Homo sapiens: one gene and its partners. The protein of the gene in region 3 purifies or fractionates together with the protein of the main gene of each other region. This does not show direct contact. Each region holds a gene or a part of one and is shown on either strand. Other genes may lie near its edges.

What was found.
Region 1: the proteins of SNAP91 (region 3) and MLPH purify together in Homo sapiens (co-immunoprecipitation; 2 studies listed by BioGRID and IntAct, with this or other methods). This does not show direct contact.
Region 2: the proteins of SNAP91 (region 3) and TRIM44 purify together in Homo sapiens (co-immunoprecipitation; 2 studies listed by BioGRID and IntAct, with this or other methods). This does not show direct contact.

Annotation. Positions count from the first base shown.
Region 1 is NC_000002.12:237,488,607-237,499,086, forward strand, and holds part of MLPH (melanophilin), read left to right. Parts: intron 1-4,796; 5' UTR 4,797-4,820; coding exon 4,821-4,930; intron 4,931-10,480. UniProt on the Homo sapiens protein: Rab effector protein involved in melanosome transport. Serves as link between melanosome-bound RAB27A and the motor protein MYO5A.
Region 2 is NC_000011.10:35,656,410-35,667,648, reverse strand, and holds the start of TRIM44 (tripartite motif-containing protein 44), read right to left. Parts: upstream 4,875-11,239; 5' UTR 4,538-4,874; coding exon 3,869-4,537; intron 1-3,868. UniProt on the Homo sapiens protein: May play a role in the process of differentiation and maturation of neuronal cells. May regulate the activity of TRIM17. Is a negative regulator of PAX6 expression.
Region 3 is NC_000006.12:83,550,665-83,560,861, forward strand, and holds the end of SNAP91 (clathrin coat assembly protein AP180), read right to left. Parts: intron 9,545-10,197; coding exon 9,440-9,544; intron 5,582-9,439; coding exon 5,489-5,581; 3' UTR 5,479-5,488; intron 3,622-5,478; coding exon of another isoform or gene 3,607-3,621; 3' UTR 2,221-3,606; downstream 1-2,220. UniProt on the Homo sapiens protein: Adaptins are components of the adapter complexes which link clathrin to receptors in coated vesicles. Clathrin-associated protein complexes are believed to interact with the cytoplasmic tails of membrane proteins, leading to their selection and concentration.

The DNA of each region.
Region 1 (10,480 bases), on a different chromosome or scaffold from region 3:
GAACAGTAGCAGGTGCCTCAGAGGATTGACTGAGGACACATTTAGAGAACATGGGATGGTGCCCGGCACACACATGGGGAGTCAGTGGGTCTTACTGAGTACGACATGAGTGACTCAGAAAAAAATTAAAACAAACCAGCTGAATGTGTGCCCAGTGAGGGGCTGGAGGTGGTGGAAGTGTCCCAGAGCCCTGTGGGCTAATGGGAAAAGTGAAATTGGTGCCTTTCAACCACAATGCAATAACGGCTCAAATAAGCCCCAGTCTCAGTGGTTGGGGCAGCCTTCTAGGGCCAACTGTCTTGTTCTTTTCAGAAGCAACCTCTGGAGGAACAGTCTTTGCCCCTACTCCTCCCCACTACCCCCACACCATCACTCCCCCTCTTAATTTCAACATCCTGGCATCATCCAGGGCTGGAGAGGGCCAGAGAGGTCTTGGAGCTCAGCCATTGTCCATGGTACAGATGGGGAAACTAAGACCCTGAGAGGAGGGGCATCTTTCCCAGGTGGCTGGGCTGGCTGTGCCTGAACTGGGATGGGAACCCAGCTCCCACCTCTCAGCACCATCCTCCTACAGCCTCACCTGGGACCCATCCTTGCGGTAGAGACTAGCACTGAGGCTTTAGGTGTAAATGCAGAACTCATGTCCATTTATAAATGAGGTTTACCACCAACTCCCCAGAGAACTGGGAGAGCAGAGGGGATGGCAAGTTGGTGGGCAGGTGGCTGAGGGGCAGAACACCCTCCCAGTGCTGTTGCTGCTGGGGCCATTCCAGACCCTTGTGGCTACAGCACAGATGTGCCTGGTTCACTTGTAGGGAAGGGAGTGGCCCTTCTAGGTGGAAATGTGCTCATTTAGCCACTGATGAGAGCTGGGGGTCAGTGCCTACTGATGGGCCCCACCTATAGAAATAACCATACAGGCTGACCTGGACGGCAGCATTCGGGAAACAGCCACAAAGGATTAAGGCAGAGGGCACTACAGTTGTCATCTCTGCCACCTCCCCTTTATCAGCAAGAATAACACCACACGACACACCTTGGCTCTGAGTCAGAGAGAGCATTCCTGCTGTTGTTAGCTTGCCAGTTTGTTTGCCCAGGCGAGTAATCACCCACAATCACCATTGTTCCAAGGCTCCCCAAGCAGCCAGCCCAAGAGCTAGTTAAGCCAATTCTTCATCCAGGAGGAACCCCCACCCTGATTTCCCTTCAATTTGGCCAAAAAATTAATTCAACTCTTTAGCGGATAAAGATGACACACTACTGGAATTCAGCAGTCTGGGCCTGGGATACCCATCTTATAAAACCAGCTCCACTCTCTCCTCCCTGCCTATTAATCCCTGTGTCCCGTCCCTCTGCCCCACTATGGCTATTCAACTGCTGGGGAAGGCTGGCTGTCTCCAATGTTTAAAATATGATCGAATCTGAGCAGTGGAACAGGCAGTAAGTGGAAGTGTTTTGTTCAGGAACCTCGTGAGCAGGCGTTATCTAAACAGAAATGGAACAAGGAGCAGATAGAGCAGGGTGGCGTCTGCCCTCCCCCAGCACATACTCTGGGAGCCCCCACCCCACCCAGCTAGGGCAGGCACAGAGCAGCCCTGCACTCCTCATGGGTCTAGCATATTCTCTGCCCTCACCTCCCTGAGCCCATGGAGGTCGAGGCAGCAGTGAGCCATGATTGCACTATCGCACTGCAGCCTGAGCGACAGACCAGGACCTCATCTAAAAAAAAAAAAGAAAGAAAACCATTTGAAAGGGGATAGAATGGGGGAGGGACAGATATCCAAGCAGCCTCTAGGACATTGGTTGTGATGCTCTGTGATCTTTTTATCCATTCACTTCCTGGTCACTGACTGTGCTCTAAGAATGTGAAGCTTGCAAGACAAGAAAAGCAGGTTTTTCCTTTTGTTTTGCTTTTCTTCCTCACACATCATGATTTAAGTTTCTCAAACTGAGGCCTGGAATTTTGGCTTCTATGTTAGGAGAAGAGAGGGAATGATAATGCCTCAGCTGATGGTCACACTGTCCATCCATTCTGAAAATAGAATGTCGGTGAATGCTCTTCTTATGATCCCTTTTTTTTCAGAACTCATGAAAAATAAAAGTGAATGAACTCCAGTCATGCATCAAATAATAACTTTTTGTTCCAATTCTTTAGAAACCAGAAAGTGTGTGCTCTGTGAGAGCATCAAAAATGAGTTCGGTAGTAAGTCCATTTCTTGACCAGAACCTAAATCTGACTGTAAAGGAACAGAGTTTGAATGCTCCCAGGGCATTGGGGCAATCTCTTCTTGTATTGCAAACACTCAACTTTATGTTTGAGAGTGGAAATGTTGACGAATGGGTGCAAAAAAATTCAACGAATTATCCTTCTCCATTTTTATGGCATAAGCCAGGGACTATTTTGGCTGACTTCCATGACAGCTCTGTAGACATTTTTATTTTAAATGGTATCTGCCCAGAAAATGTCCCTTTTCATAGTTAACCTCTTGTGCAACAAAATCGAAGTACGTCTCCAGCACAGGGGGAGTTTTGTTAGTATTTTTATGATAAACGCTTCCAAATGGTCAGCAGCACTGATGGGAGATGCTTCTCAGAATTCAGAAGCAAAATTGTGTCTTTTTGGTGGTTTTGAGACTTCCCCCTGAAAGCACACAGATTGGACCCCTTCTCTAATGTTCCTGAGAAAATAGGTTCAAGTCCTCAAGGAAAACTTATTGAAATTACGAGGTGGTTTTTAAACTTTCAGTTACTCACAACAGAACTCCCAGTCATCCATTCCCCAAAGCGTCAGTGCCCAGAGCAGAGCTGGTCTGTCTGTAGCTGCAGCATCTGAGGGCCGAGGGCTTCCCTGGCACAGCCTGCTGCACACCAGGGAGCTGCAAGCACAGAAAAGCACCTGCCATGTGCTGGGAACGGACAGAGGTGCTATTCTTGTGGAGCTTAACAATAACTAATGAGACATCACCAACTGTTAAGGGGTATAAAGAAACGTTAAAGGGATGGGGACAGGTGAAGGAGTAAAAACCACAGGATGATCAGGGAAGTCCTCTGTGGGGAGCGTGCACAGTTTTGCAGTGTCCCAGTGTGCATGCATTGGTGGTGAAGTTCTCCCTGGTACAATTGTTCCTCCAATTTTATACCCAGCAGTAATGTCCACATCAATATAAGCTGTGAGGCCTGTGTGATATTGCCATATGAAAAGCCAGCAAGTGGATCTGTCATTCTCTGCTCAGCCACCACCACTGCATCACTCCCCTGCCTCACACCCATCAACCACCTGACAGGATGTACAGGCCAAGGTCCTCTGTGACTCGCCGCCCACTACCCAAGTGAATGAGTCTCCCCTAGAGCTTTGCTACTCAGAGGGGTCTGAGGACAACAGCATGGGCCAACACGTGCACTCGAGCTGCCTGGAGATCTTGTTCAAAGGCAGATTCTGAATGAGTAGGTCTGGGTTGGAGCCTGAGAGTCTGTACTTCTAACAAGTTCCCAGGGGATGCTGCCAGTCCACGAACCACATTTTGAGTAGCAAGCAAGATTCTAAGGTTCCACCTATCTTGGCTTTTGACATTTGGATTTTCCTTCCTCTGTCCTTTGGACATTGATTGGGATCAGGTCTGATGAACTTCAAAAAAAAAGGGCATAAGATCATCTGAGGTTTGACTTCTTGGTCATCAGGTTACCTACAAACACAGCATCACATAGTGCATTGGGTGGGGCCGCTGCTCTGCTGAGCAGCTGAGTCACACCAGATTCTCAGACAGGCACCATGGCTCTTTGGGAGGCCAAGGCAGAAGGATTACTTGAGCCCAGGAGTTCAAGACCAGCCTGGGCTGCATAGTGAGAACTCGTCTCTAAAAAAAAAAAAAAAAATTAAGTAAAATTTTAAAAAATTTAATTAGATTTGCTGAGGGTGAGGCCTGGCCACCAGTAGTGTTAGGTGATCCTAATACACCCCAGGCATGAGAATCCCTGCTGGGCAGCCCCACAGCTGACCTCTCGAGTAAATAAATCTCAGCACCTACTGCTCATCCTGCCCAGATGTTTTGTTCTCCCAAGTTGCATCACTTTTGCCTCCCCAGGGAAATTATGTGGATATTCCCAGCACAAGCACATCGCCCTCACAGGCATCAGGCTCATATGACCTCCCCCTGGAACCACCCCCAAACACACACATGGCAAACCTAAACAGCCCCCCACGCCCAGAGGATGGTGAAACCTTCCAAGTGCTGTGGAGTCTCCCAACTTTTCCACCTAGTGGGTCAGTCATCCAGGCGTCCCTGCCCACACAGAGCCTGCAGCATCGCTCTAGGAGGTCTAGGAGATGCACAGGAGACTCTGAGCTGACTATGAATTTGCTGTGAAGTTTCCTCTTTTCTGTGCTGTTCCCTCTCCCAAGAAACTTAAGGCGAGAAGCCTCAGGAATGGCGCATTTCTCCCAGGGTTTTCCATTGCAAAGCCCAACCCTAGGTGAGGGAGAGGAGCCATGCCCCTGGATGGGGAGATCACTGACGTTCATCCCACAGTGGAAAGAAAATGAGAGACCCGTGGCTGAGTGTGTTTGGGAGAGTAGGAAGTAGATCCCTTTTAAAATTCGAATGTGGGAATTTTGCATAGATTCACTTAAATTCATTAAACTACACAAGTTTCCAGACAAGCATTAGAAAACCATTTAACCCAAGTACAGACAGATGTCCTGAGAAGTCAGCAGCGTTCTGTGTTGTCTCTTACTCTGTGACTTGATTGGTATTGGTAGGCTTCTGGGACTGATGACTTGTGATCCTGTGACATTCCAGGTGTGACCCCGACAAGAAGCAGAAATGGGGAAGAAACTGGATCTTTCCAAGCTCACTGATGAAGAGGCCCAGCATGTCTTGGAAGTTGTTCAACGAGATTTTGACCTCCGAAGGAAAGAAGAGGAACGGCTAGAGTGAGTGTGCCGTGCTGAGCCCACGGAGCCCGGGGTCCCTGATCTTCCCCCAGGGCCATCATATGGGTGCTGTCTGGGTGGGTCAACAGCCACGTGCAGGGTGAAGAGTGATGGACAGGAAGCCAGGTCTGGGACACAGCTCTTCTTTCTGGCCTTGGTTTTCTCAATGAGAGGATCTGACTTGCCAAACTGACATTCACTTGTTCTCTGAATAGTTTTATTTCAACTTGACCCAGCTTCCAGGGTGATATATCCTAAGCCAGGTGATACTTAGGCCACATCTTTGAAGAATAGAGCAAAAGGTGATACATGGGGAAAGTCTCCATGCCATTCTGAAACACCTAGATGTTGGAATCAAGTCTTTAGGACAGAGGCTGCCCTTCCACCTCTCTTTTCAGCAATGCCAGGTAGCATCCCGTCCTCACCATGGGTGACCCCAGCACGGTTTTGTTCCACTCTGCCCAGTGACTGGGCTAAAACCCACCCATCCTTGTTCACTCTATCCACTGCGCATCTTCCTCCCCCCTCTATCTTCTGGGCCCCCTTATCCTTTCTTGATGTCTTTAGTAGATTGGGTCACCCTATGGGAAGGAAGCATATGAGGGAAGTAGTTAAGCAAAAGCTGAGAGGATGCTCCCGGCGAAGGGGGGGGCAGAGAGCAGAGGACAGAGGGCAGAGGGTGGAGGGCAGAGGGCAGAAGGCAGAAGGCAGATGGTGGAGGGCAGAGGCCAGAGAGTGGAGGGCAGAGGGCCCCGCTGAAGATGGCAGGAGGGAGCCTGGTGTGCCCCAGGGAGAGCACAGGCTGGCGAGGCTGGAGTGGAGTAAATGAGGGGGCCAGGAAGAGAGGCAGTTGGAGATGTAACAGGTGGGGGGCATGGGATCTGGTGCCAGTCACGGGGGTCCTGTAGAGCTTCACAGGGCCTCACCCTTCCCCTGAGTCACCACAGACCTTCGAGCAGAGCAACAGCAAGTCCTAGTTTCTGTTTCACAGCGGTGGGCTCTGTGAAGTGGCCAGATGCACTTTGCAGGCAGAGCCAGCAAGCTTGACCAGAGATCAGATGGGGGGTCTCCAGGGTGAGAGGGATCAAGGGCAACTTCAAGGTTGTGGCCTGAGCAACTTCAAGGACAGAGTTGAGGTCAGCTCTGCTGGGGAGGCCACAGATGGAGAGGTTTGGGGGAAATGTTTCAGGCATGTTGAAGTGACATCACGCAGGTGTGTTGAGCGGGTGTTGGATACATACACTAGTCCGGAGCTCAGAGGAGATGCGTTACGAGAGCTTCGTAAAGGTGAAGCTTCATATGGTGAAACGGATGAAAGGTATTTGTATTCATTTCTGGGACTGCTGCATATGTGACTTGTACAGTACAGATTTAGTGGTTTAAAACACACAGCTGTCCTGCAGTTCTGCAGGTCAGAGGTCCTAAAATCAAGTTGTCCTCAGAGCTACATTCCAGCTGGAGGCTGGAGGGAGGACCCATCTCTCGGCCTTTTCCAGGTTCTAGAGGCTTCCTGGATTCCCTGGCTCCTGGCCCCTCCTCCACCTCCAAGGCCATCAGCACAATGTCTAACAATGTCTCTTTCTGCCACTGCCTCTCTCTCACCCTCCCTCCCTCACCTGTGCCTCCATGCTCACATCTCTCTCTTTGACTTTCCTGCCTTCCTCTTTCCCCTATGAGGAGAAATATGGTTACATTTAGGAACTGCCCGTATCATCCAGGACCCTCTTCCCATCTCAGGATCCTTAATGTCATTCCATCGGCAAAGTCCCTTTTGCTATGTGAGGTGACATTTTCACAGGTTCTTGGGACTAGAACATGAATGCCTTGGGGCAGGGGGTGGCAGCATTGTTCAGCTGACCCCAGCATTTAAAGCTGCAGGGCCATAGGAGACCGCACTGGAAGGGAATTTGGATGGGGACCAGCCCCGGGGACGTGAGCTCAAGCATGTTGAGGAGACAAAGCACCAAGAAAGGAGAGAGAAGGAGCAGTAGAAGAGGGACTTTGGGTTCCCATGCTGAACAGGGTCCGCAACAAACCGTTAGGTGAAGCAAGAGCAGTTCAGCCCCACATGGAGCAGGAGGCGCTCGTGTTGGTGGGGAGGGGCCGGCGTCAGAGCCTCCCCACCGTGTGATCCCCCACTCTCCCTCGGCCCTGGACCACCAGTCACCCCTGGATTTCATTATAGCCCAGGTTTCACCACCGGCCTCGGGGGAGGGCCCAACCTGCTGGCCCTGGTACAGCCAGTACCAGCCTGGTGGCCATGGCCGGCCACGACCACCTTCTCAAAGCCTGAGCAGAGGCTGCGGACCAGCATGCAGCTGACCGCAGGGCTGACACCCTGTCCCCTTTACTCTGGCAGGAAAATGCGGTCTCACGGGCCCCGTCCTCACCCCTCCACTCTTGAGTCTCAGATCCCCCATTTCCACATTCTGAAGTCCCTCACCCTCTCTTTCCCATTCTCTCTACGTAAACTCAAATGTTCTCTCACTGTTTTCACCAGAGCAGCAATCCCTGCGTCAGCTTTGGCGTTCAGGCTGTGCCAAGGGCAGAACATCGTTCTCATTAGTAGAACCCCCTTCTGGGTGGATCCTTCCCAGGTGCATCCTGCCCTGTCTCCAAGGCAGCCCTGGCTATTGTCAGCCCTTATTTCAAATGGCAACTTGTAACTTCTCATTGCCTGAGTATAGGCGAATGCAGAGAAATGGAAAAGGGGGGAGAACCATGTTTTCCAAGGAGCAGAGGGAGGGAGCAAGTGGGGCCTGGGGGTCCCGGACAGGCACTGTCTTCCAGGGGACTGCTGAGTGGTCCGCCCTGCTCCAGTCCAGGCTTATCTGAAGCGGGTTTAGCAGAAACCCCCATGCGTTTCCTGTCTGTGGCTCACCCCCTTCTGACACCCGTCTTTCCTTATTTCATGCTCTTTTCATCATTTCACATTGCAAAGAAGGGACACACCCAGGTCACCTCCCAGAACTCTTAGGAAAGGACGCACCCAGGTCACCTCTCAGTACTCTTAGGAAAGGACTTTTGTAAGAATATGGGTTCTGATGACCCTGCCTGGTGGGCCGCTGATGGCCAGTTGGTTACAGCCGAGGTCACATTGTTCATTCTGTGCCTGAGGCTGTTTGCTCAGAATGAGCCAGTGGCTGGGGCGTTAATTGGCCCAGTCTGCTATGTGATTAGGGGGGGGCTTGTTAAGTCCCCAGATGTCTTCCGATGGGAAGGGGCCGCATGAGCGTAGAGTACTGTGTTGAAAATGTCAGTGAGCAGAGAGGCAGTGCTATGAAAAGCCTGTGTCAAGGTAGTGTTAGGTCGAGAATACTGAATGCCCAAGTGGCATTGCTATGATGGGTCTTACTATGAGAGTACATGTCAGCAGGTGACACATTTGGGAGGCAAAGAATCATGTAAACCAGTGGTCCCCAACCTTTTTGGTACCAGAGACCGGTTTCATAGAAGACAATTTTTCCACAGATGTGAGGGGCTGGGGGAGGAGGCTGGGGGCAGGGTTGGAGATGGTTTCAGGATGAAGCTGTTCCACCTCATTCTCGTTCTCATAAGGAGCACACAGGCTAGATCCCTCGCAAGCACAGTTCACAACAGACAACTATGGGAGCTCTATGAGTATCTAACGCTGCCGCTGACCTGGCAGGAGGCGGAGCTCAGGCGGGAAATGCTCTCTTACCTGCCAATCACCTCCTGCCGTGCAATTCGGTTCCTCACAGGCCAGGGACACTTACTGGGCCACAGCTGGGGCTTGGGGACCCCTGATGTAAACAGTGTGGTGGCAGAGGTAGTTAAGAGGTTTTTGAGTTTCTTATTGTTTCATTTGTGCTTGTCTTTTGTTGACTGCCCTATTGGTTAAATATGTCACTAAAAGGAGAGCTGCCTCTACCTGTGAGAAGACTTTTCACAGGTGCCTCGTGAGCCCCGGGGAGTGGCAGGGCCCCAGCGTGTGGGCACGCATCAGGTGCAGGTGACTTGAGCACCGCAAGGTCAAAACACGCCTCGCAGTGTGCTCTGCTCAAACCAGGTGGTGTGGACGCTGTGCAAGGCCACAGAGGAAACAAGCATAGAAAAAAGGCTCTGGTTCTTGGCACCAAAATTGGTTCTGCAGAGGAGCTGGCGAAAATACCAGAAATCCATGATGAAACGGAAGATAACTCTTACAATAATGAACCTCCTTCCCTGTCTTTCATCATTGCTAATCTGTGCGTTTAACCAATTTCAACATGAACAGTCATCTGTGTGCTGCCGCCACAGAATCCCGTTCTCTGTAGCGTCTCTCTGGGTGACATCCTCGGGGTCCTCATGTCTGCTCCCGGTCACCGAGTCTTAAATATCTGAATCAGCAAGAGGCTGGATGAAGAAACTGGTGCTCGAGGGACCACTAAGTAGGTGGCGGTAACAAATGTAGCAATTCAGGAGCCGCCCAGCAGTTTCCCATGTGTCTCACAAACTCTGAGAGGGAAGCCCGTGGGCGCGACCCAGCCCGAGGAAACTCAAGGCCACTGATTGGAGAGAGGAGAGAACAGGGGTGGGGGAATTGTGAAACCAAGAAACACACCATCGTTTCTTGGAAAGAGCTTTACTACCCAGAATATGCATCAGGGGAACACAGCATGCAGACTCAAGGCCAGTGCCCCAGAAACAAGTTTGCCAGGGGGTTGATTTGCTTAAGAGCGGATTCACTTAATGCACCAATTATCAAACCAAAGAAAATGCATTTCTTTTAACAGTCTTAAAATTAGCAGATGTGTGTCAGATGGATTCCTGCTCAGTATTTCTCTCCAGATGTGAGCATCAATCACGTTGAAGGACGCTGGGCAGGGTCTGGAGGTGACGCCTGCGCCTTTTCCCACAGCGTCAGAACAACACAACTTTGATTTCTCCTCTGTCAAAGCAGGGACAAACAAGCTGGTCCAGATCCCTGATATGCTGGAGGAAGGAGGGCATGTGACCCTGAGACCCCCATGAGCAGCATCCTGTCCCCAAGCCACGGAAGCTCCTGCTCCCTTGGCCAGGCCTGCCCCTCCCTCCAAGCTGTGCTGTGGACATTCGGTGACGCACACGCCTGACAAGGCTCTCCTTGCTGGCCCTTAGGAGGGATCGGTGAGAAGGAAGGGGAAGCCAGCACGTCTTGATCTAGCCCAGGCAGGCATAATCTCTCTCTCAAGTCATCTGTGCCACTAGGGATTTGGGAATGGGCTGTTTGCTATATAGAGTGGGAGGGCTGTTCCTGCCTCCCACGAGGACACAGTGCTGTGCACCATAGAATCGAAAACTTGAAGATGTACAAAATTAGGATGTTAGCACCACTGGCATCAGATAGGCATTTTAGGATAGATTTGACTTAACACCCATGTCCTATCCCAGGAGCTGCCCGATCAGCAGCCCCTTCTCAGCCTTTGTCCCTCCTGACCCTCTGCTTGTCCTGGGTGTAACTTTCCCCACACTCTCTTGACTTTACTCTGTGGTTAGTTTGAAGCCTCCTCTTTTTCCCGCTGGCCCATTATTGGAATAAATTGCCAATGACAGATCTTCCCGGAGGGT
Region 2 (11,239 bases), on a different chromosome or scaffold from region 3:
GTAATCCCACAGCTGTAGGAGGTTGAGGCGGGAGGACTGCTTGAGGCTAGGAGTTCAAGACCAACTTGGGCAACATAGCAAGACACCCATCTCTACAAAATAAAAAATAAATAGTTAGCCAGGCATGGTGGCACACCTGTAGTCCTAGCAACTCAGGATGCTCAGGTGGGAGGATTGCTTAAGCCCAGGAATTTGAGATTACAGTGAGCTATGCTCCCACCACTGCATTCCAGCCTGATCAACAGAGTAAGATCCTGTTTCTAAGAAAAAACAAGTAGTTACCAACAGCTGGTAGAAGAATCAGGTGAAAAGGACACAGGCTTTTGAGGTATATGAATGTATCACTGATTTTAAAAATTAACTTTAATAAGTAAATCAATTAATGTAATTCATCATCATAAAAGTGAAAGAGAAAATCACATGATCATCCCAAAAGATGCAAAAAAAGCATTTGATATTAAATAACCAATCAAAATTCAGAAAAACTTAGCAAACCAGGACTAGAATTTTTTTAAACTGATAAAACATATCTATTTTCAAAAACCATAGAACATATCACTTATTTGTGCAATGTTATCAATTACTGCTAGACTAGGAACAAGGCCAGAATACCCACCAACCACATCCATTCAACATAATACTCGGGGTGCTATCCAATGCAGTAAGGCAAGAAAAAACAAATAACAGATATAAGGATTGAAAAGAAACAAACAAAAAGTATCTCTCTTCACACATAATACAATCAGGTATGTAGAATAAATCTACAGATAAATTATTAGGATATGTAAGATAATTCAGCAGATAGATCACAAAAAAACAATATATAAAAGTTAATCATATTCCTATATTCAATTAGAAAACAAAACTTAAAACCATTTATTTTTATTTTAGAGATAGGGTCTTGCCGTGTCGACCAGGCTGGAGGGAAATGGCAGGATCATAACTCACTGCAGCCTCAAACTCCTAGACTGAAGCAATCCTCCCACCTCAGCCTTCCATATAGCTGACAGGTGTGAGCCACTGTGCCTGGCTCATATTTTCTACAATATTATAAAATTATGAAGTATCTAGGAATAAATTTTACAATGATGTGAAAAATCTTTGAGGAAAAAAATATAAAACTTAACTGCGAAGCAATAAAAAAGACCTAAATTAATGAATCAGAAGACTTCATGTTGTAATGATATTAATTCTCCCTATATTGGCTTATAAATTTAATATCCAAATACACTCCTGCAGGCTTTTTAATACTATGATTCTAAGAAATGTAAAGTGCCAAAACTGGCCAACACACTCTTGTAGGACAAGATGGAAGGACCTGCTTTACCAGATATTAAGACATATTATAAAGGGATAACTGAGAAAACATGCTGTTCACACAGGGATATACTAACAGATAAACAGTAGAGAACAGAAGAACCAAGAAACACATTCACACATATTATGGGCACTTGATATATGACAGTGGGACAGCAAATCAGTGCACAAAGGAAGGGCTTTTCAATAAATACAGCAATAGCAATTGGCCATCTGTATGGAGAAAAAATGAAATTGCGCCCCTACTTCTACTACACAAAAATCAATACTAAGTAGAACAAGACACAAAAAGCACTAACCATAAGGAAAAGTATTGATAAGTTTTACCACATTAAAATGAAGAGCTTCTATTCAAGGCACAACTTCTTTAAAAAGAAAAACCACATAGAAGATATTTGCAACCCACATAGAAAGAACAACAAAAAAAATCAGAAACAAATATATAGCTGGGCACAGTGGCTAACACCTATAATCCCAACACTTTGGCAGGCAGATCACCTGAGGTCAGGAGTTCAAGACCAGCCTGGTCAACATGGCAAAAACATCTCTACTAAAAAAAAAATACAAAAATTAGCTAGGCATTGTGGCATGTGCCTGTAATCCCAGCTACTCAGATGGCTGAGGCAGGAGAATCGTTTGAACCTGGGAGGCGCAGGTTCCAGTGAGCTGAGATCTAGCCACTGTACTCCAGCCTGGGCAACAGAGCAAGACTCTATCTCAAAAAAAAAAAAAAAAAAAAAAAAAACAGATATATAAAAACTCATATAATGAGAAAAGACAACTCAATAGAAAAATGGGCAAAAGAACTGACTAGGTACTTCACAGAGGAAGTATAAAAGATCCTCAAAGTCATTAGTAATCAGAGGAATGAAAATTAAAACCACAATAAAATACCATTACATAGCCACAAGATTGACAAAAATGAAAAATACAGTAATAGCAAGTTTTGAAGATACAGAGCAACAGGAACTCTCATATACTCTTCATAGTGATTCAAACTGGTACAACCACTCTGGAAAATAGTTGGCAACATGTAGTATTACTGAAGATATGCATAGCCTCTGACACAGCAATTTCACTCCTGCGTTTATATTCCACTTAAATGTATGTTAAATGTACACCGAGACATGACCAAGAATATTTACACTGACATTGTTTGTAACAGCCCGACGCTCCCAAACCTGGGAACAAATCAAATGACCATCTATGACAGAATAGATAACTTGTGGCATATTCATAAAATGGAATTCGAAATAGTAATGAAAGTGAATAAACTACAGTCACTCATAGGATGACTCTCACAAACACAATGTTGAGAAAATGAAGCAAAACCCAGAAGAATGCATGATAAAAATATGACACCCATAGTGTCAAGTTCAAATAAGTTTAGGAATGCATACACATGGAGTAAAAGCATAAAGGTAAGCAAGGAAATGATCACAGAAGTCAAGATTATGCTTACTTATGCAGAAGAGAGATGGTTATAATTGGAAAAGGTATGGGGAAAAGGCTTCAATATTGCTAGTAATGTTCTATTTCTTAATCTGGATGGAGACTACCTCAGTACTTGTTTTATAATTATTTGTTAGACTGTAAGTTTTTACACACTTTCTGAATGTGCATTTTACAATTATAAATAGGCACTAAAAAAGGGAAAACCTAATACAGAGGATCTTCACTCTCAAGGTATTTGTTATCCCAATGCCAGCTATTCCCTATTCAGGGAAGCAAAAGTCATCATAATATGACAATGTTCACTAATACAGATTACTTAATGAACTGATCACTCCACTCAAAATTTCCCCCTCCCTCCCCGATTAACACCAGCAGTTTCTCTCAATGATAGTAAACATCCACAATATGAATAAAAGGTGCATCGTCTGCAAATTCATTCATTCAACAAATATTTCCGAAGTGTCCACTGTTCTGGGGGACCAGTAAGGTCCACGACAGACAAAGATCCAGACAGAGGACATGGGAACTTCCACTCCCACCCCAATTTGGCCTCCATCTTCTTACCCTCCTTTTCTACTAAGTTTCAAACACGAAGAATCTAAAATGAACTCGGGGCACATATGAAGTTACTATTAAAACTATTTTGTTAGTCTTTTCAATGCAGACGTATCACTTGCTTGGATTCATGTGGCAAAATCCTATTTCCCATGTTTTCAAGTAGGCAAAAAGATTGCCTTATCAAGAGCCCTAGCACAAAGCACCAGTTTCAACAATAGTGATGCTGTGGAAATTGGCCTAAGTGGGGTCAAAACTCCCAAGAAATGCTTTACCTGGGATCCACAGACCAGAAACTTGCAATTTTCTAGAAATTGTATACTAGATTTTGTGTGTATTTTCTCAGGTCAGAGTCCAGAACTTTCATCAGATTCTCAAAAGAGTTCAACCAAAAACGGTGAATAAGAACTGCTCCCAAAAAGTTGGAAAGACTAGCTTCTTAGGGACACAGTGAAAGCGAATGTGGTCACAGCCAGGCCACCTGAGTTGAAACCCAGGTGTCCTGACCCCTAGGTTTATGCTCTGAAGGCCCAATACTTACTCTTAATTCTTCAAAGGCTTCGTCTAGGGTGGAGAGTTGGTGGCCCTGGTGAGCCCCAATGACTGGACACAGGACACAGATGAGCTGCCTATCTTCCTGGCAATAGGTACTCAAATCAAGCCCATGGTCCGGACACTTCCTCTTGGCCACTCTCTCTGCTTCCATTTCTATTTCTGGGTCAAATTCACTTTCTGCCTCAGTTTCTCCCTCCGCCTCGGATTCCCCTTCTTCTTGGTTGTCTTCTTCGGCCTCGCTTTCTTGCTCATCCTCCATTTCTTCCTCGCTGTCTTCTTCACTCTCCTCATCGCTCTCATCCTCACTCTCTTCCTCTGTCTCGCTCTCTTCCTCTGACTCGCTCTCTTCCTCCGACTCACTCTCTTCCCCTGCCTCGCTTTCTATCTCCCTCTCCTGCTCCACCTTGACCTCCGCTTCTTCCTTCCCCGCCCCCTCTCCGTCAGCTGGCGGGGTCCAGGCCTGGGAGCCGTGGACGTATTCGGCCAGATGGTGACTGAGGAACTTCTGCCTGTGCGCCTCGGCATGGCGGCGGCAGTAGCAGAAGCCGCATTCTCGGCACACTTCCTCGGCCCCCGGAGCCTCGTCGGGCTCGCACTCGTCACACGTGCCGTCGTGAGGCAGTTCCTCGAAGGCCGCGCCCACTCCAGAGGCCATGTGGGTGCTGTGACGCGGCCAAGGCCTCGGGGCCCCGGGGCTCGCCGCCTTCCTTCCGCGCGGCCTCACTTCCTCCTCCCGCCCCGGGTCCCTTCCTAGGGAGTCGCCTCCCGCCTGGACCGCGCCGCGTCTCGAAGCGGGACCTGGGGCCGCGGCAGCCCCTGCCCGGGCGCAGCAGCAAAGACCCTTTCCGCCGGCTCGGCCTGCTCCGCTCTGTCCCTGCGCTTCCTCTGCCGCGCAAGGCACTTCCGGCGCGGCCACCCGGCGCCCCCGTCGGCCCCCGCGTCGCGCCGCCCGCTCAGCCTCCCGCTACCAGGGAGAGATCGCGGCAGCCGCCGGCCCCCGCGCCGCCCCGGTTCCACTTTCCCTTTCCCCGTCAGGAGGCCTCCTTTTACTTCCTGAGTCATTTAAAGTGGCAATGACCCTTTTCTGCTTTTCCCGCGGGGCTCAGCTCCTCCGCTCCAAATCTCAGCGTGCCTTGGAGGAGGAGGAGGGAGAAGGAGGATGGAGGAAGTCTCTTACTCTCTCCAGAAGCAGGAATTGGGCTCCACCTCCCCCATTCCCTCCCTGGAAGTGTCAACTTGAGTTTTCACGGCCACTAGGCTGGTGTCCCTGTGCATTTCAGTCTCTCTTGTGCCAATTTGTCGCCGCCCGTCACAGTCCCCAGTGTTCTGCAAGGTGCCCGGACAGTGTTGTTTACCAGACTGAACCTGACCTCTTGGGATTTCCTGAGTGCGGAAGGGCTATGTTTGTTCTAGGCTAGGGGAATTGGAGTTAGGATGAGCAAACAAATATTTTCGATCCAAAGCAATACTGTGCTTTGTCTATTTGCATTGCTACCTCCTAGGATCTCAGAATTTCTGGGGTGGTAACCTCTGTGCGGTTTTCTGAGAGCTGCCTTCGGTTGGGCAGAGACGTCAGGTGAAGTGAGGTGGGGAGAGGCAGTATTTGTCGAGTGACAGGTCCAGGTTGCAGTCATTTTCCTTTATGTAAGGTGTCCCTCTAGATTCCCACTGGGCTCTAAGAGAAAAGAAGGGAACTGTTGTTTATAAAGCAGTACTGTAGTGCCAAGAACCCGGCTACATCTTTTTGTGGCTCTTTAAAAGCCGGTTTTGGAAGATCCTCTGCCCGATGGTCCCCAAATCCTGGTGCCACTACCTATCAGTTTTATGACCATGGACAAGTTAATTCATCATTCTGTTTTCCGCTTTTTAAAAAAGATGTTAAGTGAAAAGAACGGTAAATATCTACCTCATGGGGTAGTTTTGTGGATTAAATGTAACGATGCCTGCACTGTAGAGTATTCACTAAGCTTTCATTATTATTTTTGGCACAAATTATATTTAGTGCTCACAATGCCCCTTTGAAGGAACATATTTTACACACACAGGGCATTTTCGGCTGGCTGCTGGTAATGTAGGCAAGTCTCCACCTCTACCCCATATCCATGTCTCTCCATTCACAGAAGAGTTTTTGTTTTGCACTGTATTTGGGAGAGGGAAAATTACGTTTTTATCTAGTCAAGGGAGAGGCTGAGGTGTATTAAGAAGGATGAAAGGGGATGGAATGGTGTCTGTTTTACATTGATTCCCTTAGATGATTTTGAGTTAGAATTTCCAGATGCTTTCCTCAAACATACCAGGGGATGAGGTGGGGTAAAAAAACCTTTTTAATAGTTTTTAATGTCTCCATGGATAATGTATGCCTAATCTTTGTGCAGCTTTTGTTAGATATTTATTTTTTAGAAACCTTTCTTTTTAACCTCAGAACAATTCTATACAATGTTGAAAAAAATCAGGTTTATTTTGTTCCAATTCCATACACATTTCTGTTTTCCCCCAGCTCATTTCTCTGGAAATTATTTCTGTGTCTGCTTTTGAAACATGAATTGAAGCACCATTCTGAAAAAAAAAATTCAACAAATGTCAACTCAAACATCAACGTTAATATACCTAATGAGAAGTGTGCCTTGCTTGGTTATTTCTACTCCTGTCCTCCCCCAGGCTTAAAAGGAAACAACTTAGCCTTTACAAACATAACGTTCTCACATTTAGAAAGTCTTTTATTCAATGAAAATAATTTTTATTTTTTTTATTTATTTTTTTTTTTGGTGACAGGGTCTCTCTCTGTTGCCCAGGCAGGAGTGCAGTGGTTCAATCACAGTTCACTGCAGCCTCAGCCTCTTGGGCTCAAGCAGTCCTCCCAAGTGCCTCCCAAGTAGCTAGGACCACAGGCGTGAGCCACTAAGCCCCACTACTTGTTTTGGTATTTTTTGTAGAGACGGGGTCTCACTATGTTGCCCAGACTGGTCTTGAACTCCTGGACTCAAGTGATCCTCCCACCTCAGGCTCCCAAAGTGCTGGGATTATAGGTGTGAGCCACAGGCCTGGCCTTTTTAATATCTTAAAAGGACATTGTTGTATCCAGGGTATTTGATGAGGGGAGGGGGAGTCATGTCATCATTATTGTTATTACTGTTTCTTCTTAATGTTATCTGACAGAAAGTTAAAATATAATACTGTGCAGTTCAGTATCTGACACTTTACAATTCTTCTTGAGCACTCTGTGGAGAAAGGGTCTTAGAGGCAGACAGATTAAACTTTTTTTTTTTAAGATGGAGTCTTGCTCTTTTGCCCAGGCTGGAGTGCGTTGGCACGATCTTGGCTCACTGCAACCTCTGCGTCCCGGGTTCAAGCGATTCTCCTGCCTCAGCCTCCCAAGTAGCTAGGATTACAGGTGTGTGCCACCATGCCCGGCTACCTTTAGTATTTTTAGTAGAGATGGGGTTTTGCCATGTTGCCCAGGTTGCTCTCGAACTCCTAGACTCAAGTGATCCACCAGCCTCGACCTCTCAAAGTTCTGGGATTACAGGTATGAACCACCACACCTGGCCAGATTAAACTATTAAAAAGGGACTCCATAAATTTCTGGTGACAAGGTGTGGCAGACTCAATGAGGCAGATCTCTGTACCCCTCTGCAGAGAAATCCGAACCATCTGATTCCCCAGGAATTAGTATCTTTGGGAGTGTCCACAAATAGCACCCTTGTTATATTAACCTATTGCTACATAGAAAATGACATCAAAATGTAGCAGCTTAAAACAATAAACATTTATTATCTTACATAGTTTCTGTGAGCAAGGACTCTGGGAGTGACTTAGCTGAGTGGTTCTGACTTAGGGTCTTTCAAGAGATTTTGGTAAAGATGTTGGCTGTGCTATCGTCACTTGAAGGCTTACCTACAAGCATAGAATTTGCTTCCAAGATGGTTCATTCACATGGCTGTTGGCAAAAGGCCTCACCACTTTCTATAGGGCTGCTGGAATGTCTTCAAGACAGGGCAGTTGAATTCTCACAAAGCAAGTGATCCAAGAGAGGGCAAGATGGAAGATGCAATGTCTTTTATAACCTAAGTTCAGAAGTCACACGCCATCATTTCGTACATAGCTTATTGGTTAGAGATTAGCTCTATTCAGTGTGGGCAGAAACTGCACAAGGGCTTGAAAACCAAGAGATGGGAATCTTTGGGGCCATCTTGGAGGTTGGCTGTCACAGTCTGCCCTTTGGCCACCAATGATTCACGTATCTCCCAAATGTAAAATACACTCACTTCTTCCCAAGGTCCCCAAAAGTCTCAACCCATTATATTATCAGTTCAAAGTCTGGAGTCCTGTCATCTAAATTGGGACCAGGTGTGGATGAAGCACTTTGGTGTAGTGTTTTAAGTGCAGATCCTCAAGTATAGTTCATTTGAATGCCTATGTCTCCCACACCCCAACATGCAATGGTGGGACAGGTTTAAGATAACTGGTACAGGCTGGGCGCAGTGGCTCATGCCTATAATCCTAGCACTTTGGGAGGCCGAGGCGGGCGGGTCATCTGAGATCAGGAGTTGGAGACCAGCCTGGCCAACATGGTGAAACCCCATCTCTACTAAAAAAATACAAAAATTAGCCAGGCGTGGTGGTGCATGCCTGTAATCCCAGCTACTCAGGAGGCTGAGGCAGGAGAATTGCTTGAACCCAGGAGGCGGAGGTTGCAGTGAGCTGAGATCACACCACTGCACTCCAGCCTGGGTGACAGAGCAATACTCTGTCTAAAATAAAAATAAAAAAGATTAGTGGTACAGACAGTCCTGCTCAAAAAGGAGGAAAGACAGGAGGCCTGAGAAGTCACTGGCTCATAGAATCCTTAAATCCAGGTAGACACATTTTGGAAGCTGTTTGATTAGGGTTCAAACCTACTCCTTGTTCAGGAATGACTCCCCATGGCTTTTTATTTCACCCATTGAGCTCTTGATTCCACTCTCTGAGTCATCTTTCCTTTTCCATTAAAAGTAGTTCATGTTTGCAGCTGTGTAATTGTATCAATTTGCTTACTGCAAGTAGAATTTAGGAGGTCCAAAGGCTACTTTTCATTTTGTACTCTGTCTGTGTGTCCATGCTGGCAGTGCTTCTGCCAAAGAATTGTTTTGAAAACTTTGTGAATCCTCTATAAATCGAATTGGGGCTCATACCATTGGACAAAAATTATACATACAGCTCTTTTCAAGATAAACCCTTCTTTACTCTGTAGAATCCCTCAGTGAAACCACTAAAGCACAACACTATAAACTTCCTCCAAGCTCTATGGTTTGTTTGAATGATTCTATGAATCACTGCTATAGATCCTTTTGAGGTCTGAACAAAGGATTTTATAGCCGCACTCTTACCTTCATCATTTGATGATGTTTTGCTGGGAATGTCCTGGAGTTTTTCCTTGCCTGGAAGCCATTTTTTCACAGTAGCATCATTTGCCATCTGGGGAAGCTGGGAATTTTCAAAACTTGCAAGTTCCGGATTTTTTTTTAAGTCCTTCCTTTAGATGATCTCTTTCTTTTCACATTTTGCTATAATCAGCAAGAAAACATCAGTTAGCACCTTCAACAGTCTACCATGAAATATCCTTAGCTAGAACACTCAGCTGGTTAGGCACAATTTCTACTTTGCACATTACTGCAGGTGACAATGTTACTAAACTGCTGCCACTACATAACAAGGACCCTTTTCCTCCAGTTTCCAAAAACATGTTCCTCATTTCCCTTTAAGTTCTCACCTACAAAGGCTCTAGTGTTTTTCGCTCTTGTTGCCCAGGCTGGAGTGCAATGGCATGATCTCGGCACACCGCAACCTCTGCCTCCAGGGTTCAAGTGATACTCATGCCTCAGCCTCCCGAGTAGCTGGGATTACAGGCATGAGCCACCACGCCCGGCTAATTTTGTATTTCTAGTAGGGATGGGGCCTCTCCATGTTGATCAGGCTGGTCTCGAACTCCCGACCTCAGGTGATGTGCCCGCCTCTGCCTCCCAAAGTGCTGGGATTACAGGTGTGAGCCACCGCATCCAGCAAAGACTCTAGTCTTTCACTAACATTGTTCTCAAAGTCCTTCCAGCTTCTACCCTCTGCTCAGTTCTAAAACCATTCTAACATTTTAGGGTTTTGTTATGGAAAAACTATTCTTTTTAATAAAATTTGTGTTAGTTGTCTATCGCTACATAATGTAGGAAGGGAGGGGAAACTTCACCCTCAGAAGGTTTGCTATAAAATCACCTGAACAAAGGCAGATTAATAGAAGAAAAGATGTATAAATTTATTTAATATAAGTTTTACATTACACAAGAGTCTTCAGAATGAAGACCCAAAAGTACAGGGGGAAACTGTCTATTTTTATACTTAGGGTCAATGAAGTATGAACAGCCATGTAGAAATATGATTGAAGAAAAAAGGGTATGATCTAATGCTAATGTCAGGGGTGTTTGAACCAGAGCAACTCCATCTTGAATAGGGGCTAGGTAAAATGAGGCTGAGACCTACTGCGCTACATTCCTAGATGGTTAGGCATTTTAAGTCATAGGGTGAGATAGAGGGTGAGCACAAGATACAGGTCATAAAGACCTTGCTGATAAAACAGATGACAGTAAAGAAGCTGGACAAAACCCGCCAAAACCAAGATGGCAATGAGAGTGACTTCTGGAGATCCTCACTGCTACACTCCCACCAGCACCATGACAGTTTATAAATGCCAGGGCAACGTCAGGAAGTTACCCTATATGGTCTAAAAAGGGTAGGCATGAATAGTCCACCCCTTGTTTAGCATATAATCAAGAAATAACCATAAAAGTGGGCAGCCGACAGCCGTCTGCTCTGTCTATGGAGTAGCCATTCTTTTATTCCTTTACTTTCTTAATAAACTTGCTTTCACATTACGGACTCACCCTGAATTCCTTCTTGGGCGAGATCCAAGAACCCTCTTTTGGGGTCTAGATTGGGGCCCCTTTCTGATAACAATAACAGACTGAGTGGGGAGACAGCAGGGTCTGCCTGTCTAGATTCCTCTTGGCCTTTCTGTGCAACATTCCTTCCTTCTAGGTACAGGGCAGGACTTTCTCTGGAATCGGGGTCTTATGACCTACAATCAAGCAAAGTAAGTCAGATCATTTCTTTATGGCCAGTTTTTATGCAGAAATGTGGGGGAAAGTTAGAGTAATACTTTTAAGTTTTATGACTGGCTTTGGGGAAAAGAGGTTCTGGTGTCTACGACTCACCTTACAAAAGTAGCCGGGTGTGGTGGCACATGCCTGTAATCCCAGCTACTCGGGAGGCTGAGGCAGGAGAATGGCTTGAACCTGGGAGGCGGAGCTTGCGGTGAGCCGGCGATCACGCC
Region 3 (10,197 bases):
ATATTCAGTTAGGAAAAGAGGAAGTGAAATTGTCTCTGTTTGCAGATGACATGACTGTATATTTAGAAAACTCCATCGTCTCAGCCCAAATCTCCTTAAGCTGATAAGCAACTTCAGCAAACTCTCAGGATACAAAATCAATGTGCAAAAATCACAAGCATTCCTATACACTAATAACAGAGAGCCATATCATGAGCAAACTCCCATTCACAATTGCTACAAAGAAAACAAAATACCTAGGAATACAACTTACAAGGGATGTGAAGAATCTCTTCAAGGAGAACTACAAACCACTGCTCAAGGAAATAAGAGAGGACAGAAACAAATGGAAAAACATTCCATACTCATGGATACAAAGAATCAGTATCATGAACATGGCCATACTGCCCAAAGTAATTTATAGATTCAATGCTATCCCCATCAAGCTACCATGGACTTTCTTCACAGAATTCAGAAAAAACTGCTTTAAATTTCATATGGAACCAAAAAGGAGACCGCATAGCCAAGACAATCCTAAGCAAAAAGAACAAAGATGGAGGCATCACACTGTCTGACTTCAAACTATACTACAAGGCTATAGTAACCAAAACAGCATGGTACTGGTAACAAAACAGATATATAGACCCATGGAACAGAACAGAGGCTTCAGAAATAACACCACACATCTACAACTATCTGATCTTTGACAAACCTGAGAAAAACAAGCAATGGGGAAAGGATTCCTCATTTAATAAATGGTGTTGAGAAAACTGGCTAGCCATATGCAGAAAGCTGAAACTGGATCTCTTCCTTAAACCTTATACAAAAATTAACTCAAGATGGATTAAATACTTAAACGTAAGACCTAAAACCCTAAAAACCCTAGAAGAAAACCTAGGCAATACCATTCAGGATATAGGCATGGGCAAAGACTTTATGACTAAAACATCAAAAGCAATGGCAACAAAAGCCAAAATAGACAAATGGGATCTAATTAAAGAGCTTCTGCACAGCAAAAGAAACTATCAGCAGAGTGAACAGACAACCTAGGGAATGGGAGAAAATTTTTGCTATCTGACAAAGGGCTAATATCCAGAATCTACAAAGAACTTAAATTTACAAGAAAAAAACAAACAACCCCATCAAAAAGTGGGGGAAGGATGTGAACAGACACTTCTCAAAAGAAAACATTTATGCAGTCAACAAACATATGAAAAAATGCTCAATGTCACAGGTCATTAGAGAAATGTGAATCAAAACCACAATGAGATACCGTCTCCCACCAGTTAGAATGGCAATCATTAAAAAGTCAGGAAGCAACAGGTGCTGGAGAGGATGTGGAGAAATAAGAACGGTTTTACACGGTTGGTGGGACTGTAAACTAGTTCAACCATTGTGGAAGTCAGTGTGGCAATTCCTCAAGGATCCAGAACTAGAAATACCATTTGACCGAGCCATCCCATTACTGGGTATATACCCAAAGGATTATAAATCATGCTGCTATAAAGACACAGGCACACGTATGTTTATTGTGGCACTATTCACAATAGCAAAGACTTGGAACCAACCCAAATGTCCAACAATGATAGACTGGATTAAGAAAATATGGCACATATACACTGTGGAATACTATGCAGCCATAAAAATGGATGAGTTCATGTCCTTTGTAGGGACATGGATGAAGCTGGAAACCATCATTCTCAGCAAGCTATCGCAAGGACAAAAAACCAAACACCGTATGTTCTCACTCATAGGTGGGAATCGAACAATGAGAACACTTGGACACAGGAAGGGGAACATCACAGACCGGGGCCTGTTGTGGGGTGGGGGGGAGGGGGCAGGAATAGCATTAGGAGATATACCTAATGTAAATGACGAGTTAATGGGTGCAGCACACCAACATGGCACATGTATACATATGTAACAACAAACCTGCACGTTGTGCACATGTACCCTAGAACTTAAAGTACAATTAAAAAAATAAATAAAAGAAAGTTCACCATAAAAATACATATACATTTTGAAATATGGAATTTCAACTCATTTGGCAGCAGTTACAGAGACCCAAGTTTAATGAAGGCTTGTTAAAGTTGCTCTTTTTCCTTGTTTTTAATTTTTTATAAAATAATCAAAACTCTATTGGCATGAACAGCATTTTAAAATCTTCAGTATTTTGTCTGCTGTGTGTGTCATTTGAAACAGACCTTTTTCCCAAACATAATCAAAGAGAGAAACGTTATGTTTGCATTTCTTTGTTCAAGGTGTTTATTGCATCTCAGAGGGCGTACATGCACTGGGTTTTTAAACTGAAATACAAAGAAAGCCATTTTGAAATTGGTTTTAGGTAATTTTTCCCCATTACAGTGTATGTTATCCCCACAGTAAATTCAGATACAACCACTTTTAAATGGTACCATACATCTATTAAATAATTTGAAAAATAGGCAAACACCTTTCCAACCCAATATGCTTTTATGAAGAGCTGCCAAGCTACTAGCAACACTGATCAACAGTGACCTCATTTATGCATCAAAATCTTAAGCCAAGCCATCAGCACAGACAGTATGACAACAAATTAAAACTTAAAGAATACAGTATGTACAGTAAAAGATACAATTCTCTGAATTAGTTTAAATCCTAATCACAATGTTACAACAAAACCTACTTTGAGCTCAGTTGAAGGATGGAAGAACACTAGTCTACAAAACACACAAAGAAACACTAAATTAACAGATGTACTAAAAACCCACAGTAAAGTAAAGATATTTGCAGTAATCTTTAAATTACAGATATACCTTGGGGTGCCTTCAGAATCACTTGAATAGCACCTCTCTAACCGCATTTTCATGAACATGACACAAACAGACCCTTTACTTTTCAGTGCATTTAATCAAGAATGAATAAATAGGTCAATTTAGATGCAAAACCTGTCAAATATAATTAAAATATATATATTTTAATATAGCAGTGATAAATAGGGGATTCTTCCCATACGATTTTTCGTTCTTGATAAGGTAGCTTCAAAGAGAAGTATTTATTATGGACGTTAACCTTTATATTTTTTAAAATAAAATTTCTTAACATATACAGTGCCACAAAAATAAACATTTCTCACAACAGTTGAAGTTCCTGTGATTGGAAAAATGTACTCCACACTGAAAAAGTTTTGTATATTTATGAGTGTTTTCCTTATTATCTGGTATTATCACACTACGCTTGTAACAGAGATACAGAAGAAAAGATAATTTATGGGAAGAGTTTGGGGTTTGTTCAAAAGTTATATGTACATTGAAACCTTCAAAAACACAGACGTCTTTCCAAATAGCTCGCCACACAACAGCTGCATCATCTGTCCTCAGGTGAAGTCCAAAAAAGCACTAACGGCATCAGTAACATCCATTCATTGTTTACATCGTACAATACACAAATAATCCAAATACACTACAATTTCAAGAGTAGGGATAACAGCTAAGGTAGTACATATTCCTAATGTTCACTTTCACGGCTGTGTTACACATTTTGGAAGAGAAGTTATGAGTAAGTATTGGGTTTGGTACTGGTGGCTCCCTTTGAAACTCAGCATCAATCTTATTTGAAGTCTCCAAACTCATTTATTTTCCTATTCAGTCACAAATATTGCAGCTGTAAAGAAAACAAAAACTAGAATTAGAAAACAAGATTATTACATAGTCCTCAAACATTTTACCTCCCTTGCAATTTTACTTCATAGTTTCTGAAAACAACTTTTACATAAAAAGGTCTCTGCATGGACAAATTCAAATTTACATACTTTTCATAGCTCTTTAAAACAAGCTTAAAATTTTTAAAGTTTAGCCAGAAATTAAAAAAAAACTTTTGATGTATAGTTTCATTTTAGATAATAATTATATCAACAAAAATTTGAATTTAGATACATATTAGAAATTTTAGTAGCAGGACATTCGGTATAGCATTCAGTATCTAAGAGCAGCCAACCTTTAAAAAGGGCAGCTAAAGAAAAAGGGGGCATGGCAATGACCTTACATTATTTTTTCATGTATTCAGTTATGGTGTTCAATGAGTCACTTTCTAAACAGCTGAACCAGTGACAGAATAGAAGAGAACAGAGAGATCCCTGGCGACCCGATGCCTTTCCTCAGCCACTTCCCACTCATCTCCCTGGCTAATTCATGCATCATTCATTTCTGCTGGAAACATTTGTGGGGTCTTAAGGCTTAGCCGCATAGATAACTCTTCATAAAATAGTAATTCTCTCTGTGTCTCTGTCTTTGTCTGTCTCTGTCTCTCTTTCTCTTTGTCTGTCTCTGTCTCTCTCAGGCAAGGACTGTCTCAAGCATATCTGTTTCCTGTACTTATCAAAGTTCCTGGCATATGATTAGGGCAACATTTACTAAGTAAGAGGTGAATACAGGCTGCTCTATGCAGTTTCCTTGGTCACTCCTGAAACTATTAAGTGTTCATTGTCTCACTTATGTCTACATTAGCCAATCCAAAGTGGAATAGAAAAGTTGGGCATAAGGAGAGTTTACTTGACTGAGATGTTAATACCTTAGAATAATGCATCATTAATCTTGTATAAGAAAAAAAAAACAAATCAAGAATCCACAAAAATCTTAGTAGACATTAGGGAAGGGTTTTAAGAAATATATGTAGCACAGCAGGTGCATACTGAAAACAACATTGGACAAGAGTCCAAAAACACTGAGCCTCTTACAATTCTTCCCTGTGGGACCCTGGGCAAATTCCTTAATGCCCAAGGATCAGTTCTTTTAGCTGTGAAATGGAGACAAAAAATATCTGGATAGTTTATCTCACATGACTGTTCTATTGAGAAGTGGATGTGAAAAGTACCGTGTAAATTATGTTCATCCATTCAGCAAGGATTTGTTGAGAACCTACCCACTGTGTTAGGTGCTGGGGTCAACAGTAAACATTTTTCCTTCATTCGTTTCCTTCCATAACTTCAGCATGAGTCATTTCATAAATTATATGAAATTTGTGAAATTTAAAACTAGAACATTAGAAATTTAAAACTCTGCTTGAATGCAGAAATGTAAAGGGTAATAATCTAAGCTTTATGAGGCAAAAGAAGGATAAACAAAATAAAAATACAATTATGCAGTCAAATATATTCTTAGATGATTTCTAAATGCAATAGTATAAATGTTAGCTTTCTATAAATTCAAGTCATCATGTAATAAAGTGGTAATTTTCTAATTTACCAAGTAGCTTGGGCACCTTTTTGCTTTATTAAAGCTAATCGTTGTGCTTTCCAGGATAAGGACAATTTGGAGGTTACTTTCCCTCCTAGTTACATAAATTAAGATTTAAAAAACTCTTAAAGAGAGCTTTTAATATCAAATTTAAAAGTATAAACACTCAAATTATTACTATTATACACAGCTATTCAAAACGCAGAAATAATGAGTACCTCTGAAATAGCTAAGCATTGTATAGCTCATTATTACAAGCCTACAGGAAAAGCTCAATATTAGATACCTTAAATTGTTTACAAGAAATCCTTGATGTTAAGATCCGCTAATGGGTCCTTTGCTGGAGGTTTCTTGGGACTCTGACTGGCAGGTGTAGGGCTTGGAGAAAGCTAATGGGAAAAAGCCAGCCCCAAAGAGCAGGAATAGAAAGCAGAGAGAGAATGAGACATGGGGGGAAGAGGGGGCAGGGGGAGAGAGGGAGAGGGGGAGAGAGAGAGAGAGAGAGAGAGAGAGAGAGAGAGAGAGAGAGAGAGAGAGAGAAAAGCATTAGGCAGAACACATATCAAAGAAAACAAACCTGCAGAAGATTAGATGGTTAAAGGCTTATGAAATCTACTTGTTCTACATAGTCACAGAGTTGTGTTTAATTCTGGACTGGTAAAATATACTTCAACTGATATTTGGCTTTCTTGAACTTCTCTGACATCAGATTTAGCCAAAGTAAAATTTGGGGACTCCAGTAGAACAATATGGGTATGACTTAGGGAAGATGTGAAACACTAGTAACATAAAGATATTATGAACAAACAGTAAAACAAACAAACAACCGTTTTCTCTATACAAAAGCATTTTTACTTTCAGTCATTAGTACCTCTAAACTAATAAATCTATTTAAATGGCTTTTCCTGTAGTGAGAGTGAATTTGAAGGAAAAATAGGAAACGGTTTGCAGAAAGCTATTTAAGAAATTACTTACACTTATTAGCTAAATATACTAGAATTTCATATACATTATTTTAAGTGAAAATCAGTCAAGTTTGAGGGCACTGTTTGTTTCACATGACCAAATAGTTTCCTGGTAGTGAATGCCACTAAAATTCTAATGCAATCTATTCAGCTCTCAGAGAAGGCCAAAACTAATTATTAAATACTATAGGAAAGAATCATATTGGACTTGTTGCAAAAGTAACAAATAATTAACTTGCCTTGTTTCTGTTTAACCAGAATCTAAATTATTTTTTCATTGTGTCACAGATATAACTTCTGGGAGCTGACTTTTACAGGATACAAGGTCTTGAAAAATCTCATGTAGTTTATAGAGTAATAGTTGACATCTAGGCTTTGAGTCTAATTAATCTCCTATGCTTGTAGTAACATGCTGGGACTGTGGGGCAGTGTTGTATATTTTTATTAGTTCAGTGAACAGAGTTCCAGAAGTATGGATTTTGAGATTTGGTCCTATGTCCAGAAACTACTGACTAATTATATTATCTATCTGTCAAATTTCCATGTTTAAAACTGGGATATGGGCTGGGTGTGATGGCTCACATCTGTAAAATCCCAGCACTTTGGGAGGCCGAGGCAGGAGGATCACTTGAGGCCAGGAGTTCGAGGCCACCCTGGGCAACAAGGCAAGGCCTCATCTCTACAAAAAATAATAAAAAAAAAAATAGCTGGGCACAGTGGCTTGCATCTGTGGTCCCAGCTACTCGAGAGGCTGAGGTGAGAGGATCCCTGTTGCCTAGGAGTTCAAGGCTGCAGTGAGCTATGACTGCACCACTGCACTTCAGCCTGGGCAACAGAGTGAGAACCTATCTCAAATAAACAAATAAGCAAACAAAAAAATAACAACAAAAAACCTGGGATCTGTTTCATAGAGAGAGATATATATATAAATAAAGTAAGGCTTGAACTTCCTTAAATCAATTCAAAGATTGGTCCATAATTGATAATTAGGTGAGATGACAATATCATGATACCAGCCAATGAAAGAATGCTGCGATAGTCCAGGCATCAGTAATAAAAAAACTACTTTGTTTTCTGAAGCTACAAACTCACATTTATTTTATTATCTAGTATAATTATGCTTCTTCTCTGATATAGGAAATATAATCTAAAAATTACATAAATATGGTGTATCATTACCTGGCTTATTATGAATTCAATTACTGATTGAAACAATGTATTCCCATCATACTATCTATTTTTCATTTTCATTCTTCTAATTAAGTAAATAAATTGTTGCTAACTTTGGTATTACACAATAAAAACAACTGCCTTAAGTAATAAAATTATATTTATTTATTTCTGAAGCTTTCAGTATATCAAACACAATAAGGTTAAAAGAAATCTCAGTAACATTGTTCCAAGTGCATAATAACAGAAATATTTCTTTTTTTTCAAAAAGATGATAGTCATGGAACTATTCAAACATCAAGGAAATATTTATGATAAATGAGATCCCTTAGAATTTAAGTATATCTAAGTTATACCTAACCTCAACCATTATACCCAAAACCTTCCTGACTGTCCCCAAAAACAACACTACACAGGGTTCACCAGTCTTCACATAGACTAGAAAATTTCTCCTGAAGCCAGTTATGGCCAGTAATGGCCATGAAGGCTAGGGTTTCTCACATTCTAAATTTCTGTCTTTCAACATCCACCATTCTTTCTCTTGGTCCCTGTTGCTTTTGAGGGGCAAAGTGAAGAAGCTGAAAGGAAATTTTGGGAACAGGTCAATGGATTTAGAGATGCATCAAGGAAGCAAAAGGGATTAAAGTATACTCAGAAAGTTCACAGCAGCAGGTATTCCATGGATAAGACAGTATAAATACTGATTTGATAAGTTAAAAATATTATAGGACTGAAAACATTTACTCATATCATTAAAATATATTTGAGCTATTTGCTCTAGTTTGTAAAGCATGCTGCTACCAAAGTAGTAATTTGGTGTCCTGCCCATCCAAGTCAATTTCTCATGATGAAAACTTCTTTGGTTCTACATGTAACATCACCTTGGCCAGACAATTTAAAAGAGGAATCAGGAAAGCATGATTCATCACTAAGACTAGCACCACTAGCAGCAAAACGGTTCAACAAAGTGTAACATATTTTGGCATTTTTGAAGGGTAAGTAGCACAGTGTGTAGTAAGGAATTTAGCTTTACCTAAACTGAGGTTTTTTCCTTTGCCCAGAAAGGGAACCTCTAAATCCTTATAATTTCTCAAATGATAGGCATGTCTTTGTTATTCAAGGTGGGCTCTGGGAACAACACCTGACAGTTTATGCTAACAAGGTGACTCAGAGTGGAGGCAGAAAGCCCAACCATGAGATTTTAGGGCTGGGTCTTTGGGCCACATGAAACCAGCCTGATCTTCAGGGAGGAACAGGGGTTGAAGATTGAGTTCCACAAAATGGGTAACAATTCAACCAACCAATCCTACATAATGAAGCATCAATAAATGCTGGATGCTGAAGCTCAGGTGAGCTTGCGATACTGCATGTGTACTGTCACATGATGATGTCCACAGGAGAACCCACCTCTGAGGACAAAGAAGCTTCATGTTTAGAACTTTCCCAGATGATGTTTATGCATCTCTTCCTATAACTGGATCTAATTTGTATCCTTTTACTACAATAAAACTCTTATAAGTTTAGTACTTTCCTGAGTTCTGTGAATCATTCTAGGAAACTATCTAACCTGGCCATGGAAAAACCTCGAATTTGTAGCCAGCTAGTCTGAAGTGGGGGTGGTCCTGGGGACTCACAAATATGTGTCTTGCGTCTGGAGTGAGGAGATTCTAAAAGGGAGTATTCTCACAGACTTTGCAGTTTGGCAAACTTATTGCAGTTAGTGTCACGAGTCTTGGGTGGACATGGCAGTCTGGAGGACTGTGCTGCCAACCTTTCTGGCTAACGCTGGGAACACATACTAAAACTACAGACCAGAAGCATTCATTTCTCTGGGACACATGCCTTGGATGCCCTGAATATCTGGATGTTCTCAGGAACCAATATGAATTAAGTAGGAAGAGAATGGAGGGATCTTTAGACAGTGAGTTATTTCCATCACTTTTTCCCCCCCAAATCTCACTTTTGCAGATCTGTCTTCCAAGCTCCCTTTACTTCTGAAGCAACAGGTATGAGGATTACATTAGGTAAAAACACTTTTTAAACAGTTTGCTACACCAATGTTTTACACTTATTAGTTAATGTCACTGATTTGTGGACATTGAAGAAACTGACCTGCGTGCCAGGTACAGCGGCAGCTCCAAAGGGGGGCCTCATCATGGGCTGTGCAAACATGACCGGCTGCTGAGGCATCATGGGCATGCCTGTCCCAGCAGGAGGCTGAGGAGGAAGAATGGAGAGTGGTTCAGAGCATGAGTGGAACTCACTAGGGCACTATCCTGACATTTATTGCTTTTATGTACTTCTGACAATATTTGAGGAATCCAGGACTATGAGGAAGCATAATTTGTAATTTTAATTAGGGATAATGTGAGGCTGTACTGTGAGGGAGAGAGTCGCTAAGGTGGGTGGGTAGCATAAGCCTGGTTGGCCACATGGTATCCCCATCCCAACCAAGCTTTGTTGTTGTTTATTCATCTTCTGTAAGCATAATTCTTGGAAAGAGAAAAATTTGTTTCTTTATGAAAGATGGTCCTAAAATTGGCTGGTAAAATTGGTGAGTAAAAAGTCCTAGTATAATAATGAAGGGTTGATTTTGATGATTGGGCTAATACTATATTTTGTAAATTTTATAGCAAAAATGATATAACAATGTACTATAGAAATTAATTTGATGGTAGAACATAAGTATTTTATAACTCATTTTATCACTTCATGTGTAGACTACCTAAGGTTTAAAGCAGATGACAACTTTTTAAGTTTTACTTACTGTGTTTTGGGAAAAATTATATTCTGTAGGAATACTTAGTAATTTGGGATTTGGCAAATTATTTAGAAATGTTGATTACAATTTTTAGCACACGTCATCACTC